Linked DNA regions of Homo sapiens. The protein of the gene in region 1 purifies or fractionates together with the protein of each later gene. This does not show direct contact. Each region holds a gene or a part of one and is shown on either strand. Other genes may lie near its edges.

Evidence for each region. Proteins that work in one complex are often made in the same cells at the same time.
Region 2: the proteins of SYNRG (region 1) and HEATR5B purify together in Homo sapiens (affinity purification with western blotting; one study listed by BioGRID). This does not show direct contact.

Annotation. Positions count from the first base shown.
Region 1 is NC_000017.11:37,539,919-37,543,418, reverse strand, and holds part of SYNRG (synergin gamma), read left to right. Parts: intron 1-853; coding exon 854-1,447; intron 1,448-2,875; coding exon 2,876-3,039; intron 3,040-3,500. UniProt on the Homo sapiens protein: Plays a role in endocytosis and/or membrane trafficking at the trans-Golgi network (TGN). May act by linking the adapter protein complex AP-1 to other proteins. Component of clathrin-coated vesicles.
Region 2 is NC_000002.12:37,063,873-37,067,372, forward strand, and holds part of HEATR5B (HEAT repeat-containing protein 5B), read right to left. Parts: intron 2,039-3,500; coding exon 1,883-2,038; intron 1,119-1,882; coding exon 868-1,118; intron 1-867.

The DNA.
Region 1 (3,500 bases):
CTACCTCTTAAATTACTTAACTATATATTAAGAATGCTTTGTAAAATCAGTCGTCTGCCCCAGCAGTTCTTTCTTTTTCTTCTTTCCTTTTTTTTTAAAAAATGGGGAGTAGATACATAGTTGAAGGAAAAAGTGGAGCCCAACAGGACCCAGATCTTTTTATTGTATTTTTTTAAGGGCTAAAGTAGATCAGATTGATTTTCTTTCCTCATACTTCATCACAGCAATATGACGTCCAATTTGACCAAAATAACAACTAGGTAAGTAATTGCTTGATTAAAATCTCATGTTTGGCATTGCCTGAGACAGAAATTCTAATAATTGATAATATTATGACAGAAACCCTAATAATTGATTAAAAGTTAGATGACATTATTTTCATTTTAGTTTTGAGAAACTGTCAACTTTTAATTATTTTGCCATGTGCATTTCACATGACCATGTTTTAAAGGCACATTTTCCAACAAAGTCAAGATGAAGGGAGACATGTTTTAGGCAAGGAATATCAGTACATTTTTAAGTTGATAAGGGAACAATTTATTAAATGACCCTAATCTTATATCAAACAGTGTATACTTTGGTAGATGAACCTCCTATCTTTTTTTAGTAATTTTTATAGCCAAAGAAAATGGTTCTTGGTAACTAAATGTAAATGCCAACTCAAGGCTAATGTGGGTTTTTTTAAGATCAGATTTTACAGCCCAACTCTTAATTTTAGTACAAACTCTAAATTTAGCTAATTTCAACATAGTATAAAACTAATCAAATATGCTAGGCATTTTGCTTCTACAGAGTTTAGGGCATTTTGCCTAAATTGCTTGCCTCTAATTGTGGGGTCTTATTTCCCTTTCAGATATAGAGGACTTAAAATATGCTGCTTTTGGAAGCTACAGTAGCAATTTTGCAGTGAGCACACTTACAAGCTATGACTGGTCAGACAGGGATGATGCAACTCAGGGCAGAAAACTCTCTCCATTTGTCCTCTCAGCAGGAAGTGGATCCCCCTCAGCCACCTCAATTCTTCAAAAGAAAGAGACTTCATTTGGCAGTTCTGAAAACATCACCATGACATCTCTCTCCAAAGTAACGACCTTTGTAAGTGAAGATGCTCTTCCAGAGACCACCTTCCCAGCTCTTGCCAGTTTTAAAGACACGATTCCTCAGACCAGTGAGCAAAAGGAATATGAAAACAGAGACTATAAAGATTTCACAAAACAGGACCTGCCTACGGCTGAACGGAGCCAGGAGGCCACGTGTCCCAGCCCAGCGTCCAGTGGTGCCTCTCAAGAAACCCCGAACGAATGTTCGGATGACTTTGGAGAGTTTCAAAGTGAAAAGCCCAAAATCAGCAAATTTGACTTCTTAGTAGCCACTTCACAAAGCAAAATGAAATCCAGTGAAGAAATGATCAAAAGTGAGCTGGCAACCTTTGACCTTTCTGTTCAAGGTGAGTAGCTTCCAAGGTAGATTTTACTATTGTGGTTTTTTTCCACTGAGATGTTAGATGTTCTTAAGAATAAAATGTTGCTCTCTGGTTTCGCAGGAAATAGATTGTTCTAATCTTTGAAATCAGGGTCAATTACAGATAGCTATAATAAAGATTTCCCTGAGACGGGAGTCAAAATCAGCATCCCTCAGATAACTGCTTTATGGGCTAAAAACAAGCACAGCATGCAGGTATTGCTCATTAGCTCGTTTGGTTAGAGGTGTGCTGTGTTAAAAGAGCCAGATAAATGGATTCGAGCCACTTGTAGGCACATTAGCTCCGCTCATGTTCCCTGAGCACAGATAATGTCTTTTAATCCAAAGGTTGCAAAGTGGGGGCCGGGGATCTGCATCTAGCCTGCATATCACATTGACCCACACAAAAGATTTTTAAGTACGAAGTAATTGCCAGTATTTAAAAGACATGAGATTTCCCAATCTGGATTTCCAACTTTTCTTGAGAAGTCATAATATCTGGCACTAGTAGGTCTACAGTCCCATATGTTGGCAGCTGGAGCCGAAGAGCACCACTCCCTGTAGGTGGGTCATTCTCTCTCTCCTACCATAATCCCCACCGCTTCCTGTCTCAGCGGACCTACTTAAGTTGTTCACTTTACTTGCCTGGTCTCTGAAGGCATTTGAGTTTGCCTCTTCTGCTTTAATCTCATCCTGACAGGAGGGGTCGTTGATTTCAACTGGATTGAGAGACTGTGAAGGAACTCGGTTACAAATCCATAACAAATGACTGGAAAAGCCACACAACTCTTACATACTGATATTTAGAAAGGTGCTTTTGTTCTCCAGACTCCAGTGATTCTGCACTGGGCATTATGGAAGACTTGTGATAGATCAGAGAAGAGTCATGTTGAAAACGAAACGCAGGGAAACCGTGCAAGAGAGAACAGTAGAAAAGATTTAACATGTAGCTTCCCAGAAAGAATGAATGAGGAATGTGTTTGTGAATGCCTCATGACATAAGCATCTGAAGAAGAGGGTCGTGGGCTGGGCGCGGTGGCTCACACCTGTAATCTCAACGCTTTGGGAGGGGAGGCAGGCAGATAACTTGAGATCAGGAGTTCGAGACCAGCCTGGCCAACACAATGAAACCGTGTATCTACTAAAAATACAAAAATTAGCCAGGCATGATGGTGTGCACCTGTAGTCCCAGCTACTCAGGAGGCTGAGGCAGGAGAATTGCTTGAACCCAGGAGGCGGAGGTTGCACTGAGCCGAGATCACACCACCGTACTCCAGTCTGAGCGACAGAGCAAGAATCTGTCTCAAAAAAAAAAAAAAAAAAAAAAGAAGAGGGTTGTGGTAGCGAGGAAGAGCCTCTGCCTGAACTAAGGTGAGTAGCCAAAACCTTTGACTGTATTATCCCCTTCTCCCAGGATCACACAAGAGGAGTTTGAGCCTTGGTGATAAAGAAATAAGCCGTTCTTCTCCTTCTCCAGCTTTGGAGCAGCCTTTCAGAGACCGTTCCAATACTCTGAATGAGAAGCCCGCCCTGCCCGTCATCCGAGACAAGTACAAAGACCTGACGGGAGAGGTGGAGGTGAGAGGAGAGCTTTCTACAAGGGGTGGGTAACAGACCAGCAAGCACACAGGGCCCCAAGAAAGAATGCTGTCAGCTTTCACATGGGGAAAATGAGGGGCAGAAAGACACAAAGCACCAGACATAAACTATGTAATTAAAGTGAGGCAAGGGTAACATTAGCCCTGGGTGAAAACATTTCCCAGGTGTGGCACCCACTGAAACTAATCAGTGACCCTAAAACCAAAACTATTCATGGGACTTCACAAGGATGGCAGTGTTTGTATAATTCTTCTTGAGCACTTAGACTTTATTGTCTTCATGAAACCTCAAAATAGAGGAGACAGGGAAAATATTCTGAATTTTTTATTTCTGTCTGCTGCATCTTAGTGCCACGCTATGTTCCTCCTATGGTCAACACACTTAATTTCCCACCTTTCCCTACTCCTTGTTACATGTGCACATGGGCCACGTCCTCACAC
Region 2 (3,500 bases), on another chromosome or scaffold:
GCAACCTCAGCTCACTGCAACCTCCGCCTCCTGGGTTCAAGTGATTCTCCTGCCTCAGCCTCCCAAGTAGCTGGGATTACAGGCATGGGCCACAATGCCCGGCTAATTTTTCTGTATTTTTAGTAGAGACAAGGTTTCACCATGTTAACCAGGCTGGTGTCAAACTCCTGATCTCAAATGATCCACCTGCCTCGGCCTCTCAAAGTGCTGGGATTACAGGTATGAGCCATCATGCCCGGCCATGATTTATTAAAACCACTCAATTTTTACTAAACATTATCAAAATGCTAAATATTACAATAGCGTATTATCCTGACATCTTTGAATATATAGCAATGTGAACTTTTATTTCTAAAAGCTGAAAGAAAAGCTCTGACTTTCAAATAATTACTATATCTAAGGTTGGGTTTTTTTTTTTTTTTTTTTTTGAGACAGGGTAGGTCTTGGTCTGTCACCCAGGCTGAAGGACAGTGGCATGTTCATAGCTCACTGTAACCTCAAACTCCTGGGCTCAAGTGATCCTTCCAACCCATCCTCCCCAGTAGCTAGGACCATGAAGTTGGCTAACTTTTTTTATTTTTTGTAATGATGGGGTCTCACTATGTTGCCTAGGCTGTTTTTTTTCTCTTTCCCTCTAAAATAAATTATAACATGTTACTAGACTTGGACAAAATCTATTATCCTTACATCAGAATTAAATATCAAATTATAATAGGGTCTGTTAACACCATAGTAAGAACACTATGTTTTATGATAACATAGTACAACTGTTATTTGACCACCCTGTTCAACACTAAACACAGCAGCGTTCCTATAAAGACCAAAGCCCACGTGACAGCATTCCCAAGTCTAGGATCTCCGTCATACCTTTCCTTTGGCATGAGGAATGCCCAAAGGACACTGATGTACTCCACCTAACAAAGCAGCCATTGCAAAACTATATCCACTGACAGCTTCTGGTGAGGTCTTCAAGTTGTTGAGCCGTTCTGCACACCTGTCTAGAAATGGTGTCAGCTGGAAAGGTAATGCCACAGCCACACAGCGCAAACACCATGCAGCAGCAAGTCGGGCAGCCATGCTTGGATGAAGCAGCACTGAAGTCACAATCTCCAAAAGCCCTAAACAAGAAATACTCAAAATATTACTCTTTAATGAAGTCAAATGATTTCAGAAACTCAAATACTATCTAAAAAACAATAACTGAAATGACAATCACCAAGCTTTCACACATATAGATCCACAACTTTGCCTAAAACTACATACAGTAGAGTACTTCAAAGGAACATTTTCTATGAAGAACATAGTACAATTATATTCAATATTGATGTAAAATTTAATAGAAGTCTTCAACAAATTTTAGTCAATTTTTATAAAAAAACTACCACAATTGCTTTTGATTTCTGTTCCAAAACTTTATTTAACCATTTAATTCAATATTCTTTACAAGGAAACTTTTTTTTTTTTTGAGACTCACTTTGTCCCCCAGGCTGGAATGCAGTGGCATGATTTCGGCTCACTGCAACCTATGCCTCCTGGGCTTAAGCAATTCTCCTGCCTCAGCCTCCCAAGTAGATTACAGGCACGTGTCACCACAGCTGGCTAATTTCTGTATTTTTAGTAGAGACAGACTTTCACCATGTTGACCAGGATGGTCTTGAACTCCCGATCTCAAGTGACCTGCCCACCAGGGCCTCCCAAAGTGCTAGGATTATAGGCACGAGCCACCACGCCCAGCCTATCACAATGAATATTAATTTAAGTAAAACCTGATGATCTGAAGTGCTAATGATGATGATAAGCAACTAATCAGGAATTAAATATCAATCACACTTATGACTGAAAAAAGTGGAAACACATACTAGCAAGTAACTGAATGTCATACCTATAGATGCTTCTTGAATAAGAGGGGATGCGGTGGCATTCAAGCTCTGCACCAGGCTCCCGAGTTCCTGGAGGGCACAGACCATCACATGCTGGCTTGCTGCAATGTCTGCTGCGCCAGATTTGTTTTCTCCACTTGTGTCATTCACTACTGCTTCTGGAAACACAAAATCATGTCTTTGACATAGGAGAAATGAATTGTGGTATGATTTTTTTGGTCTATACAATTTATGATTTTAGCCATACCAGTTGATGTCCGAGTGTTAAAAACTATGCAGTTATTTCTCAATAGAAAACTTGTAGAACTAAACACTGAAGTGACTTAAAAATGTTGTTTAATAGCTTTATAATAATGCTAAAATATATACTGAGATACATCTTTGCTTCCAGGAATACAACCTAATTTTAGCAAGCAGCAGCAATCCAGTGTATAAAAGCACAGATACTGCAGAAAGAAGACTCGGGTTCAAATCCCAATTCCACTAGTTATATTAGTTATGTGACATTGAGCAAGATGTTCAATTTTTCTGTCCCAATTTCCTTATCTGTTAATGGGCTTACATGCCTATTTCAAACGGTACTGTGGTGATTAAAAAGTCAGTGCATATAAAGAATTTAACACAATGCTGCCCATAATACACATTCAATAAATGTTAACAGCTATTATTACTTTATTACCATTGCTACTTTAAGTGTTCCAATATATTGGAGGTATCTGTTAAATTACTGACCAGAAAATGAATCTATAAGGAAAATGCCTTAAGTTACCTCTTACTGGAATGTTTCTGTAAGTTCCCATTAATTAACCTTGCTGCCTGCTACCCCAACCTTTTAGCTTCCACTAGAATCGAAATGTGTTTGACAAGAGACAACCAAAGATCGCTTGCCAAACTACTAATTGAGAATACATTCTGGCCCACAAATCCCCAATACGTATCATTATATTTAATTCTGCTTTCAGGATTTAAAAAAAAATCAAATAACGAATTTATGACCTTAACATTAAGAACCTTTAAATGATAGTAAAACTTTCTTTTTTGCATTCATTATTAATTAATAGACTATAAAATACATAATACAGACTAGGATATAATGGATTAATAAATTGAAGACTATAATTAAATTTTTTTTTTTGAGACAGAGTCTTGCTCTGTTGTCCAGGCTGGAGTGCGGTGGTGCCATCTCAGCTGACTACAACCTCTGCCTCCTGGGTTCAAGCAGTCCTCCCAACTCACCCTCCTGAGTAGCTGGGACTACAGGTGTACGCCACCACGCCTGATTAATTTTTGTATTTTTTAATAGAGACAGGGTTTCGCCATGTTGGGCAGGCTGTTTTTGAAGAACTCCTGGCCTCAAGTGATCCACCCATCTTGGCCTCCCAAAGTGCTGGGATTACAGGCATGAGCTACCATGCCTGGCCAAATAACTCTTGTTTTTAGGTATTTCTGGACTTGGAAATGCATAAACTCTAGCTTTTGATTGCTAAACTTTAAGCTCCCTGAGGATAGGTGCTGTATGCATCTGGCTTGCTATTTTACTCCCACCATTTGACGCGGTGTTTCTGGCACTAAACATTTCCTCAATGAATCAATGTGCAAATTATTCTTTAAGTTGTGAAT